4 linked regions of the Homo sapiens genome follow. The protein of the gene in region 4 interacts with the protein of the main gene of each other region in a biochemical or structural test. Each region holds a gene or a part of one and is shown on either strand. Other genes may lie near its edges.

Region 1 (2,531 bases), on a different chromosome or scaffold from region 4:
AGTAAAATAATAGCTATTGTGATACTATAAAACCAAAATTATTTTGAACTCACTAATAGTAAGATTGAATGTTTACAAACAGAAGCATAGAGTCCCCAACTTAATTTTTTGACTTTACAATGGTGTGGAAATGACAGGCATTCAGTAGAAAGCATACTTCAAGTACCTATACAATCAATGGTTTTCACTTTCAGTGTTCAACAAATTACCTGAGAGATCCAACGCTTTAGTATAAAGTAGGCTTCATGTTCTTTGATTTTGCCCAACTGTAGGGCTAAGTGTTCTGGGCACATTTAATGTAGGATAGGTTAAGCTATAATGTTCATTAGGTCAGGTGTATTCAGTGCAGTTTTGACTTCGTATTTTCAACTTGCAATGGGTTTATCAGGGTGTAGCCCCATTTTAAGTTGAGGAGTATCTGTGTCTGAACTCTTACATTCCTTTTGAATATCCACTGAAGCACAATTCTAATAACAGCCAAGGCACTCACAATCACATAATTAACTTTGCTAGTTTTAAAATGTCCACTTTATTCCATATAACACTTAACCAGATATCATTTACATCTGAGGAAGAGATGGCCCATGAGACTGATCTATAGTAAAACACTCTAAGAAATGCAGTCCAATTTTATACACTTCCAGGCATCCCTAGACAAGTGTGTCACAATGCACAATGTGGAAATATAGGTATCACTACTACATTTTACATAAAAGGGAAGTATCAATAAACTTTAGAAAGTAGTAAATTCACCTGTCCCTTAAAATATGGGTATGCAATTGTTACAAAGCCATAGTAAATGGTTTATAAAATGTACTTTTATTTTATGTTACTCTGCTGTTACATAGGGCATAACATTTTCACAAGGCTTTTTTGGGACTACAGTCAATGATTAGCAACACACAATAGTGGTCCAACTCTCTAAATAACAATCACTAGACAAACTGGACACCCTCTCACATGTGCACAAATCTGCATGGAAAAGTACTAAAGTTTTAGACTTGGACTTGTGTACTTTAATTTATTTCCCCTTTCTAGTGTATTAAGAAATGACATGCACTTTAATTTGCCAAAAGCAATGCTTGTATTCTGGCAGCAACATGCTACTTCTATCACATAGTAAAGTGAATACCAGAACTACAAAGGCAGGAGGTGTAAGTGAATTTTTATTGGGAGGGGAGGTTGGCAACTTAAACAGCAGCAAATAAAGAGTGAATAAGGAAACTCCCTGTTGCCACAGATACACAAGACCTCCGTATGTGATACAGGAGCCATTTCAATTTGTGACCCCTAGACAGAGATGGCAAGTGCTTTTCCATTCAATCTAATACTTCCGGATTCCTACTAAAAAGGAATACATTAAGAGCATGGAAAAGTTGCTTACTGAAAGGAAACCCCCGAAGAGTAAGGGAGGGAATGTAGAAATTAAGAAGTTATGTGGAATACTCTTTAAATTGTAATTAACTACATTTTCTTATTTTCACAGTAATACAAAACACAGTCACTTGCAGAACTGGTTCAGATTACTTAAATACCAGATACATTTTTAGTCCTCTACATAAGTGTTTGGGAGTTACTTATGTTTATATGAAATGAAGCTATTAATACTTTTCTACAGCAGTACTGCACACCAGGAAGGCCAAGACAAACACAAATCAAGGAATGAAGTTTTCCCAAAGCTGCAGTGTGAAAAGACTATAAACAGTTGATTCCATACACATGAATGGGTTTCTTTGCTATAGGAAATCCAAGTGGAATAAGGAATGGAGATGTGTAAAAAGGTTTCTTGAAGGAAAGAAGGATGACACCCTGTATGGATTTAGTTTTCAGCCCCTTCTGCCGCATCACATTCTTCTCCTGCACTGTCTGATGTCCAAAGCTAGAAAAAGAAGAATCATATTAAGTTACTATTTCTAGATTAGGCAATTACACTAAGTAGTATTGTTATATCAAAATTAACTACAAGAGTAGTAAATTCCTCAAACAATGGAGATCTTGACTAAGACTGAAGTTCTCTCTCAAAACCCCAAAGACCATCACCTTCCCAAAGTACATCCTTGCAGACCTTTCACTATGCACTTACAAAATGACATACATACATACATACATATACCACTGGAGCATGGTTTTATAGCTTCCTTTTTATTTAAAAAGCATTTGGCCAGGCACAGTGGCTCACGCCTGTAATCTCAGCACGTAGGGAGGCCAAGATGAGAAGATCGCATGAGGCCAGGAGTTCAACAGCCTGGACAACATAGCAAGATCCCACGTCTACAAAAAATTTCAAAAACAAAATTGGCCAGGTACGGGGTGGTGTGTGCCTACAGTCCTAACTACTCAGGAGGCTGAGGCAGGAGGACTGCTTGAATCCAGGAGGTTGAGGCTGGAGTGATCCATGATTATGACACTGCACTCCAGCCTAGGCAACAGGGTGAGATCCTTTCTCAAAAAAAAAAAAAAAAAAGAGAAACTTTTTTAAAAAGGCACTCTACTTTCAGAATAAGCAAAGTGATAGTCTCTATTCCCAGCAG
Region 2 (3,500 bases), on a different chromosome or scaffold from region 4:
GTCCATGCTAATCTAATGTCCTTTACTTCAGTACTTGATCGAACCCCTCTCATCGACTTAAGGATATCACTTCTATGGTTGTCACTTCCTTCTTGTACATGACCATTTTCCTCCTCTCCACTAAATCATTCCCATTAGCACACAGACATCATCTTTTAGAAAAACCCTCCCTTGACTCCATTTTAAGATAGTGCTCCATTTTTGTTACCCTTCCCAGCAAAATTCCTTTAAGAGAAAAAAAAACCTGTTTATACATGCCATCTCAATGTCCTCTTCTTCCACTTTCATGAATTTAATTAGACTTTCATCCCCATCTCTCTACTGATAACTGATTATTAAGGTCATTAAGAACCTCTACATTGGCAAATCCAATGTTCATTTCTCAGTCTCATCTTAACCTATCAATCACATTTGACACATAATCTACCCTCCTCCTCCTTCGGGAAGCACACTGTTCTCTTCATCTCCAGGACACTTCACCTCCAAGACACTTCTCTGTTCTCTCACACTAGAAAGGCCACTCCTTGGTCTACTTTGCTAGTTCTTCCAACCTGTAAACAGTGGAATAACCTAGAGCTCAGTACTCAAATCTCTTTTCTTTAACTGTACTCATTCCCTAGGTGAGTGATCTCATCTACCTACTATATATACCAACTATATATTATCTACTAATAAATTTATGTTTATAGTCCTGACTTCTCACCCTTGAACTCCAGACTCTTAAGCCAAACTCTACTCCAGCTCCACTTAAATGTCCAATTAACACTTCAAATCAGCACATTCAAAACCAACTCTTTATTACCCAACTTAAGTATGCTCTTCACCATTTCAACAGATGGCAACTGAATTTTTTCAGCAATTCAGACCAGAAATCTTGTAGTCATTGCTGATTCCTCTTTCTCTAATATTCAGTTCATCTTGTCAGCTAGTCCTTTAATTTCCTGAATCTGACCACTTCTCACTTCCACTCCTACCAAGACACCACCACTCTGAACTATTACAACAGTCTCTCGCAGTCTATTTTCCATAAAAGCGGCCAAAATGATCTGTTTAAAACATAAATCAGATCACATTACTCCTCAGCTCAAAACCCTCTAATGACTTCCCAACTCTGCAGAATAAAATAACTTATAAGAGAGAACTTCCCTCTCTACTCTAAAATAGCACACCTGTTCCTCCATTACTCTGTTAACTCCCTTACTTTGCTTTTTCTCACAGCATTTACCATCTGTTACTACATATTAATTTATTTTATTTTCATTAGAATAGTTTCTTGCACTTGACAGGGACTCAAATAATTGTTGAATAAATGAATGAGTGACTTCTAATATTCCTTTTCTTTGGCCATTTATACTTTAAGTTCAACAGTGACTAGTTGTATCCAGAAAAGGGATCTCCAGGTTGAAAACCACAGAGAACACCCTGGATTCTTATTTCCTGGGACTAGAGACAACAGCCCAAATAACTTGAAATAGAACTGGTAACACTCACTCTCAGAGGGTTTTCATTGAGGTATGGAGGCTCCCCTTCAATCATTTCGATGGCCATGATGCCCAGGGACCAGATGTCAACCTTGGGCCCATAGGCCTTTCGTGTCACAACCTCTGGTGCCATCCAGTATGGGGTTCCTACCATGGTGCTCCGTTTGCTCTGCTCTGGGGTTATCTGTGCACAGAATCCAAAGTCAGCTAGAAAAGAAAAATAAGAGAAAGAACATACATTTAGGATATACACTCACTTCAGTAAGTGTTGACTGTGTACCTACACATAGGTGACAAGATCCGCCTGGCTTCCAGCTCTGCTATCCTTTGTCTCTCCAAAGTCACTTGACTACCACCTTCATGTCTAGCTCCTAGCCTATTTCCTATTGAACCCTGAAGAGAAATAGAAGGAATATAAGAAACACCATCTCTGGCCTCCTACTTCTCCTCAAACCAGGGGACTTAGTGTTAAAGTCCAAGCTGCCCATTTTGGTCTTGATTGCTCATCCCAATTCTGCTTTGTTCTTGAAAAACCATTCCCATAATCCCAAATCTGGCGACTAGGTCCTTGTCTTATTCCTTGGGCACGAGTCCTTGATTTAAACCCCAATCACCTATGACTAGGCATGGCCCTGTTTTTATGCCCCAGACCCAGGGCTGCTAGCAGTCCTTCCATAAACTGCCCATCCACCCATGACACAGCCTGTTTGTCTGGTCTACTGGTCTTTACACCTTTGAACAAAATGCTCTACCTGCCATGGTTTTTACATTATATTGCAATTATAAATTTATTTAAATTAGGAAGCCTTTGAGAGTATGGATTATGTCCTCTTACTTGTCCTCATATCCCTAGAAGGACCAGCATGTACTGGACATTCAATAAAAGTTTGCTGAATAACTGAATGAAAGAAATTATACAAAACTCTTTTTTCTAATTATCTATTACACGTTTTCCATACTAGATTGAGAAGGTAGGGAAAATTTACTCTCAGTGCCCATCACAGGACCTAGCACAGAGTAACCATTCAGCAAAGTTTTTTGTGGTTGTTGTTAAATGTATAAATGAATGAAAAAATAATGAAATGATATCCTATGATTAATACAGAAAATATAAAACAGCCCTCATATCCCATGAAATCATAAAGACCCTTTGGTGAGTGTCGTAGTTACTATTATATGATGACCATCTCACAGGAGACAGGGCCCCACAGGCAGAGAAGTATTATCATTCCTAAGGCTCCTACTTACTTAGCTTGACAGAGCCATCCATTCCCAACAGAATATTGTCACTCTTGATGTCTCTGTGAATGACCTGGTTCGAATGCAAGAACTCCAGAGCCTGCAGACACTATTGAAGTGGTGTGGGCAGGGGGAGAAAGAAAGGACATACATATAATACAGAAGACTTAATAGAAAATCCACTAATTCAACCTCTTCACTTTAAAATAAAGGAAGTAAGGCCCCAGTGAGTAAAAGGACTTGCCCCAAATCAATCGCAGAGCCAGATCTAGAAACAAGTCTTCCATCTCCTAGCTAAACATTCTTTTAACACTCCATGCTGCCTTTCACCTTAAAACAGTTTTTTTAAGTAAAGGAGTTCCTCCAATGTAATTTTTTTTCTAATTAGATCCTTGGTAAAGGACCTAAGGCCCAAGAGAAATTACTGAAGAAAAATGGAAAGGATCTTATAATGACAGACCAGAGGAAAACAACAAATAAGGGTCATATTTGAGGAAGCAGACATATGGAAGTGATACTAGAAGCAGTAAGTTAGCAGGATAATCTTATTTTGGTGAGGAGATATTTTGTACTATTTTGGATATGCTGAATTTGATATCTGAAGACAAATGTCTGGTAGGCAACTTAATTTATGATAAATTATGGTAAATATTTACAAGTCATTTGGGAAGAGATGATTTTTGTTTAAGTTATAAAAATGGTTGAACCCGGCAAAGGGTAAAGGAGAAAGAGAAGAATCTTGGAAAACACCTATACTTAGCAGGCAGAATGAGTAATAAA
Region 3 (3,500 bases), on a different chromosome or scaffold from region 4:
GGAGGTTGTAGTGAGCTGAGATTGTGCCATTGCACTCCAGCCCGTGCGACAGAGTGAGACCTTGTCTCAAAAAAGCAAAAACAAAAACTATTAGAGATACGTCTTTGGCCGGGCACGGTAGCTCAAGCCTGTAATCCCAGCACTTTGGGAGGCCGAGGTGGGCGGTTCACCTGAGGTCAGGAGTTTGAGACCAGTCTGGCCAATATGGCGAAACCTCGTCTCTACTAAAAATAGAAAAATTAGCTGGGCACGCCTGTAATCCTAGCTATTCAGGAGGTTGAGGCAGGAGAATCGCTTGAACTTGGGAGGTGGAGGTTGCAGTGAGCCAAGATTGTACCATTGCACTCCAGCTTGGGTGACAGAGGGAAACTGTCTTTTTTTGTTTGTTTGTTTTTAAAGGAGATACATCTTCATCTGTTCCTGCTTTGACCCTTTGCCTGGACCATGGCAGTGTCCTTTCAGGCTGTACGTCCCTCCATCCTGCCCTCCTGTGCCTCTGCTTACACTGGGCTCTTAAGGAAACTCCTGCTCCTTGTCTCATCATCCCTAGGGATGGTTCTGTCTTATCATTTCTAGAATTGGATGCCTTGCCATCTTGTTTGCTCCTTAACTCTGCATACAGGGCTGTGTAAATAATTCCTTCATGAAAATCTCTATTTCAATCTTCTGGGATGAGTTTTTTCCTTCTGGGACCCTGACTGATAGAGACTGATAATACACCCGTATGAAAATATGTCTGCCAGGTGCGGTGGCTCATGCCTGTAATCTCAGCACTTTGGGAGGCCGAGGCAGGCGGATCACCTGAGGTCAGGAGCTCGAGACCAGCCTGGCCAACATGGCAAAACCCTGTCTCTACTAAAAGTACAAAAATTAGCCGGGCGTGGTGGTGGGCGCCTGTAATCCCAGCTACTCAGGATGCTGAGGCAGGAGAATCACTTGAACCCGGAAGGCGGAAGTTGCAGTGAGCTGAGATTGTGTCACTGCACTCCAGCCTGGGCGACAAGAGCAAGGCTCTGTCTTGAAAAAAAAAGAAAAAAAGTCAGAAATAATTTGCAAAGCATGTTAGAAAATTCTAGATTTCCTGAATAGCAATTTAATTGAGATTGGCCAAGAAATATTACATAGGGTTGATACTCTTTTATTCTAAGATAGTCCTTTCTGAGCATGGGGTCTATAATTTTTTTTTCCTCCACCTTACTGCTGCCCCACCTTTTAACTTTCACTTAGTGGACCTTTGCCCCAAGATTTTCTCTCAGCTTTTCCTAGGTAAGACAGCATCACCCGGGCGCGATGGCTCATGCCTGTAATCCCAGAACTTTGGGAGGCCAAGGCAGGCGGATTGCCTGAAGTCAGGAGTTCGAGACCAGTCTGGCCAATATGGTGAAACCCTGTCTCTACTAAAAATACAAAAAAATTAGCCAAGGATGGTGGGGGGCGCCTGTAATCCTAGCTACTCGGGAGGCTGAGGCAGGGGAATTGTTTGAATCAAGGGAGGTGGAAGTTGCAGTGAGCCAATATCGTGCCACTGCACTCCAGCCTGGGTAACAGAGTGAGACTCCGTCTCAAAAAGGAAAAAAAAGACAGCATCTTACATTCAGGTATTTATAAACAACTTTTATTATTTATTTGTTTTTATTTTATATTGGCTCACTGCAGCCTCCACCTCCTGGGTTCAAGTGATTCTCCTGCGTCAGCCTCCCAAGTAGCTGGAACTACACGTGCCTGCTACCATGCCGAGGTAATTTTTTTTTTTTTTTTTTTTTTGAGAAGGAGTTTTCGCCCTTTTTGCAAAGGTTGGAGTGCAGTGGTGCGATCTCGGCTCACTGCAACCTCCTCCTCCTGGGTTCAAGCGATTCTCCTGCCTCAGCTTGTCGAGTAGGTGGGATTACAGTCACGCTCCACCACACTGACTAATTTCGTATTTTTAATAGAGACGAGGTTTCTCCTTGTTAGCCAGGTTGGTCTCAAACGCCTGACCTCAGGTTATCCACCTGCCTTAGCCTCTCAAAAAGTACTGGGATTACAGGCATGAGCCACTACGCCTGGCAATTTTTTGTATTTTTAATAGAGACAGGGTTTCACCATGTTGACCAGGTTGGTTTCGAACTCCTGACCTTAGGCGATCTGCCCGCCTTGGCCTCCCAAAGTGCTGGGATTATGGGCGTGAGCCATCGTCCCTGGCCTAAACAACAGTTTTATTATTTTATTTTTTATTTTTTTATTGCTTATTACTATTTTTTGAGATGGAGTCTCGCTCTGTCACCCAGGCCGGGGTGCAGTGGCATGATATGGGCTCATGGCAACCTCTGCCTCCTGGGTTCAAGCAGTTCTCCTGCTTTGGCCTCCCAAAGTGATGGAATTACAGGCCCGAGCCACTGCGCCCGGCCACAACTATTTTAATAGTGTTGTTTTGGTGTTGGTTGATTAAAGGAATGGGAACGAATGACTTGAAGCCCTCTCTGTTTCACTCTTTATACAAAGTGGAGTCCAGATTGGGCTAGTGGCCTGTCTAGCCCAATGTCTGACTTGGACATACATTACTGTCCAGGAGTTTCTTAGCTGAATGTGAAAAATGCCTTCCGTGACATCATCCTTACAGGAACATTCTTTACATTTATTCTTTACTTCTGTTGAACGGTGGTGGCGTGAACCATGAATTTGTTTAAGCTTTTCAGCTGTTTTGTGTGTTTTCCTCTCAAGGCATGGGGTTTCATATTTTTGACCTGTGGTAAAGGTATTTGAATTCTGCACTGGCCTCCAAATGTAGGTGTAGTATATGGCTCTGATCTTTGTTGATGATTTTATACATAATGTGGTTTTTTTTCTTGATAAGCCAAAAAAATTATACATAATGTGTGTGTGTGTGTGTGTTTTAATTTCAAATGATAGTTACAGTAAAAGTTTGGAGTTGGGCTAAGTGGGAGGAGCATCAGGAAGCCATTTTTAGAAACCTTAAATTCACCCTTTATAACTTTCTGTCTTTTTGCATTAGTCATCTGATACCTTAGTACTGCCTACTTTTTCACATCTCCATCACTACGTAGCTCTTAAAATTGTAGTCTTCCTTGAAAGGAGATGTTTTTGTCAAGAGTCTTTGCCACCAAGGCAGGATTGCATGTGATCAGTAGGAATATTTTCCTGCAATGTCTTAATATGAAAAATTTCAAACAGACTAGTGGAAAGCATTGTACAGTCAACATGCACATACCCATGGCCTGGATTCTATGACAGTATTTTGCTCTACTTGTTCATTTTGCTGTATTTGCTTTATCATGTCTTCCTGTTATCAGAGGGAACCTTTTAAGAGGATTTATAGAGGAGTTGATTTTGTTTTTTGTTTTGTTTTGTTTTGCTCTTTTTGAGGTGGAGTCTTGCTCTGTTGCCCAGGCTGGAGTGCAATGGCATGATCTCTGCTCACTGCAATCTCCGCATCCCAGGTTCAGGCGATTCTCCTGCCTCAGCCTCCTGAGTAGCTGGGCTTACAGGCACCCACCACCATG
Region 4 (4,068 bases):
TCTCCTGACCTCGTGATCCGCCCACCTCGGCCTCCCAAAGTGCTGGGATTACAGGCGTGAGCCACCGCGCCCGGCCAATCTACTTCCTTTTTTAAGGAAGAAGATTTTTGTGGTCTTTTAGTATAGCAGTTAAATCATACCCTAACTAATATAAGGCCTTACAGTGAAAAAGTAAGTTACTCACCCAACCTTGGTCTTCCATATTATTTTTACACACATGGTAGTATACACTTTACATTGTTTTAAACCTTGCTTTTTTCACTTAATATGTTTCAGTTGTGGATCTACACCAGCCCTCATAGAGCCATCTCATCTTTTTAACAGTTGCATAATATTCCATTGTGTGAATGTATTATAAATTACTAAGGAGCTCCTTGTGGGTGGACTTACTCTTAATTCGCCGCAGGTAAGCCTCATCCTCTGTCTCAATCAGGGGGAAGTCCTCCCTGGATGGGCATCTGGAGGGGTAACAGGTCGCATGCCATTGAGAGACAGAAGCTAGGTTATAGACCAGAATCAGCCTTCCCTCCTTCCCAAACATGCCTTATGCTTCCATCTTCTGATAAGACTCCTCAGCCTCACACCCTAGCTTTAATTTAGTCCTGACCTTCTCCCTTTTCTTTCTTTTTTTTTTGAGACGGAGTCTTACTCTGTCACCCAGGCTGGAGTGCAAGGGCGCTATCTCAGCTCACTACAACCTCCTCCTGGGTTCAAGTGATTCACTTGTCTCAGCCTCCTGAGTAGCTAGGATTACAGGCACGCACCACCATGCCTGGCTAATTTTTGTATTTTTAGTAGACATGGGGTTTCGTCACGTTGGCCAGGCTGGTCTCAAACTCCTGACCTCAGGTGATCCTCCGCCTCCCAAAGTGCTGGGATTACAGGCATGAGCCACCGCGCCCGGCCGACCTTCTCCCATTTCTTAGCACTGATTATCTGCGTTTACTGAGATATATCTCTCCAAAGGTCGCTTGGAAAGGCAGCACAGTGCAGAGGGTCAAGTACAGGCTTTGGCATCAAGCAAACAGGATGCAAATCCTGGCTCCACTGTTTACCAGGTGGTAACCTCTCTATTTCCTCATTTGAAAAATGAAGGTAATATCTTCCTCATAGGTTTTTCATTAGGATTAAATGAAATGTTAAAGTGCTTTGAACATAACAGAAGCTCAACAAATCAATTACAATTAATATTATTAATTTCCACAATTATAATTTTTTTTTTGAGAGAGAGTCTTGCACTTTCGCCCAGGCTGGAGTCCAGTGACAGGATCTTGGCTCACTGCAACCTCTGCCTCCCAGGTTCAGGTGATTCTCCTGCCTCAGTCTCCCAAGCAGCTGGGACTACAGGCACGCACCACCATGCCTGGCTAAGTTTTATATTTTTAGTAGAGACAGGGTTTCGCCATGTTGGCCAGGCTGGTCTCGAACTCCAGTGGTCCGCCTGTCTCAGCCTCCCAAAGTGCTGGGATTCCAGGTGTGAGCCACAGCGCCTGGCCACAATTATAAATATTAATACTATTAATAAAGAAGCCACTACAGATCTGTCAACAGGACAGGTTATTTTGAACTGCTTTCTTGGAATAGGCAATTTCATAATTTTTTTTTGGAGATGGAGTCTCACTCTGTCACCTAGGCTGGAGTGCAGTGGCACAATCCTGACTCACTGCAACCTCCACCCCCGGGTTCAAGCGATTCTCCTGCCTCAGCTTCCCGCGTAACTGGGATTACAAGCTTATGCCACCACGCCCGGCTAATTTTTGTATTTTTAGTAGAGACGAGGTTTCACCATATTGGCCGGGCTGGTCTTGAACTCCTGACCTCAAGTGATCTACCCGCCTCAGCCTCTCAAAGTGCCGGGATTACAGGCGTGAGCCACTGTGCCTGGCCTGCAATTTCATACTTTTATATGCATTTCTAAAAACCTTTTCAAAATTCCATGGTGCAGAAGTTAAAAAAAAAAAAAGGTTTACAAATTATAAAGTTGAGAACTGATTCCCTGAAAGCTAAAGAAAAATTATAAAAATCTTGGCTGGGCATGGTGGCTAATGCCTGTAATCTCAGCTCTTTTGGAGGCTGAGGTGGGCGGATAAATCTGAGATCAGGAGTTCGAGACCAGCTTGGTCAACATGGCAAAACCCCGTCTCCACTAAAAATACAAAAATTTGGCTGGGTGCAGTGGCTCATGCCTGTAATCCCAGGACTTTGGGAGGCTGAGGCGGGTCGATTACGAGGTCAAGATATCAAGACCATCCTGGCCAACATGGTAAAACCCCGTCTCTACTAAAAATACAAAAATTAGCTGGGCATGGTGGCGTGAGCCTGTAGTCCCAGCTACTCAGGAGGCTGAGGCAGCCCGGCAACAGAGACTCTGTCTCCAAAAAAAAAAAAAAAAAAAAAAAATTTGCCTGGGGTCGTGGTGGGCACCTGTAGTCCCAGCTATTTGGGAGGCTGAGGCAGGAGAATCGCTTGAATCCAGGAGGTGGAGGTTGCAGTGAGCTGAGAGCGAGACTCTGTCTCAAAAAAAATTAAAAAAAAAAAAGAAAGAAAACCTGTAAAAATCTGAATTAGAATTACACTTACACTTCATTCTTTAGGCATAATCTTCCAGAATCCATTTTAAACATCTTACCTGTGCTTTATTTGATGTTTTTTCCCATCACAATTAGACACATAGTTGACTGCCTCAAATCTAATGTGTGTCCAATAGAAGCTAAAGATTTGCTGCTTTGACACACTGATTTCCTTCTTGCTTCTATTGTGTTGAGTCTGTTTATGAGACTTGTTCCTCTCTAGTATCGATGCTTTCATTATCCTCTTTTTCATTCATTTTTAGAAAAATAAATGTAAAATACAATACAATCCAAATAACAGCCCTCTGCCTACAGATGAACATGTGAATGCAGCTGAAATTGTACTGTTGGCTGGCAGGTATGCCACCATGTGACAGCTCAAAGTATTCCCTTGCTTGTCAGCTCATGCTGAATTTGAAAGGGAGTTGAGGTTGGCAATGTATAAAATGTGGCTTTACAGGACATAAGAACATAGGTGACCTTTCCAGTCTTGGGCCATTTTGTCTCTCCCTCAACCTCTTCCCCCACCTCTGAATGCTGGATTCTGTTCCCAGGGAGTTCTATGGTTGGGATCTAATGCTGCAGGTACCCTGAGGTCATAAGCACATGCAGGCGGCAGGCAGACACTCACGTGCGCACGCTCTGCTGAATGACCCGGATCCAGGTGCTCCGGTCATCCCGGGATGCTGTGTGCACCTCGTACATCTCAGGTGGGGCTGCGCTGATCAGAAACATCCCTTTCTCCTGGTTGGCAATGTCTCGTACGATTAGATTCTGCAGCGATACCACTGAAGGCTTGTCCTGCCAGTCAGGGGAAAGGAAGGATTAAGCCTGGGAATCCTGTCCCTTGGCATATTTAGGCCTTCAATCCTTCTGGACGAGGACTGAAAGGACTGAAGAGTCATCTTACAATACCAGTTAAGAGCCAGGCACTGGTGCCAGCCAGAAGGGACTTAGAAATGTGTGCAACCCTTGACAAATTATTTAACTGACTTGAAGCTTTACTTTCATCATCTATAAAATGAGGACGAAAATAATCTTTTCCCACAGGTGTAAAAGTGCCTGTGCACAGTAACAGTACCTGTGAGCTGCTCTTATTTTTTATTATTACGGTAATAGTAACAATTATAGCTGTTTGACTCTGGGGGACTCCAGAGCTCTCGTGGGCTTGGGCAGGAAAGCAAGAAGAGACTAAAACACTTGTCTGTGCTGAGAAAGGTGAAGAATGAATGTCTCACCAGGGTAGGAAAGATGTACTTCTGGTCCTTTTCCTGGAGAAACACCAGTACATCTGTCATCAGCAGCACTAGCACATCTGGAAGGGGATGAAGGTGGGAGAACAGTCAGCACTAGACGGTCTGAGCAGCTGCTTCCCTCTTTCCCAAGGACCAGGCTTATCCCATCAGGTTAGAGCTCCCAGTTTCCCTCTTCCTGGCCTCTCTTCCCTCTGGCTGCTTGCACTTTTTCAGACCTCTCACACCTCACCCATTCTATTTTT

What was found. Proteins that work in one complex are often made in the same cells at the same time.
Region 1: the proteins of ARHGEF2 (region 4) and YWHAQ form a complex in vitro, tested with the Homo sapiens proteins (one study listed by BioGRID).
Region 2: the proteins of ARHGEF2 (region 4) and PAK1 form a complex in vitro, tested with the Homo sapiens proteins (one study listed by BioGRID).
Region 3: the proteins of ARHGEF2 (region 4) and RAC1 form a complex in vitro, tested with the Homo sapiens proteins (one study listed by BioGRID).

What each region holds. Positions count from the first base shown.
Region 1 is NC_000002.12:9,583,467-9,585,997, forward strand, and holds the end of YWHAQ (14-3-3 protein theta), read right to left. Parts: intron 1,880-2,531; coding exon 1,820-1,879; 3' UTR 501-1,819; downstream 1-500. UniProt on the Homo sapiens protein: Adapter protein implicated in the regulation of a large spectrum of both general and specialized signaling pathways. Binds to a large number of partners, usually by recognition of a phosphoserine or phosphothreonine motif.
Region 2 is NC_000011.10:77,334,595-77,338,094, forward strand, and holds part of PAK1 (serine/threonine-protein kinase PAK 1), read right to left. Parts: intron 2,830-3,500; coding exon 2,730-2,829; intron 1,689-2,729; coding exon 1,492-1,688; intron 1-1,491. UniProt on the Homo sapiens protein: Protein kinase involved in intracellular signaling pathways downstream of integrins and receptor-type kinases that plays an important role in cytoskeleton dynamics, in cell adhesion, migration, proliferation, apoptosis, mitosis, and in vesicle-mediated transport processes.
Region 3 is NC_000007.14:6,377,527-6,381,026, forward strand, and holds part of RAC1 (ras-related C3 botulinum toxin substrate 1), read left to right. Parts: intron 1-3,500. UniProt on the Homo sapiens protein: Plasma membrane-associated small GTPase which cycles between active GTP-bound and inactive GDP-bound states.
Region 4 is NC_000001.11:155,954,512-155,958,579, forward strand, and holds part of ARHGEF2 (rho guanine nucleotide exchange factor 2), read right to left. Parts: intron 3,886-4,068; coding exon 3,809-3,885; intron 3,372-3,808; coding exon 3,202-3,371; intron 459-3,201; coding exon 391-458; intron 1-390. UniProt on the Homo sapiens protein: Activates Rho-GTPases by promoting the exchange of GDP for GTP.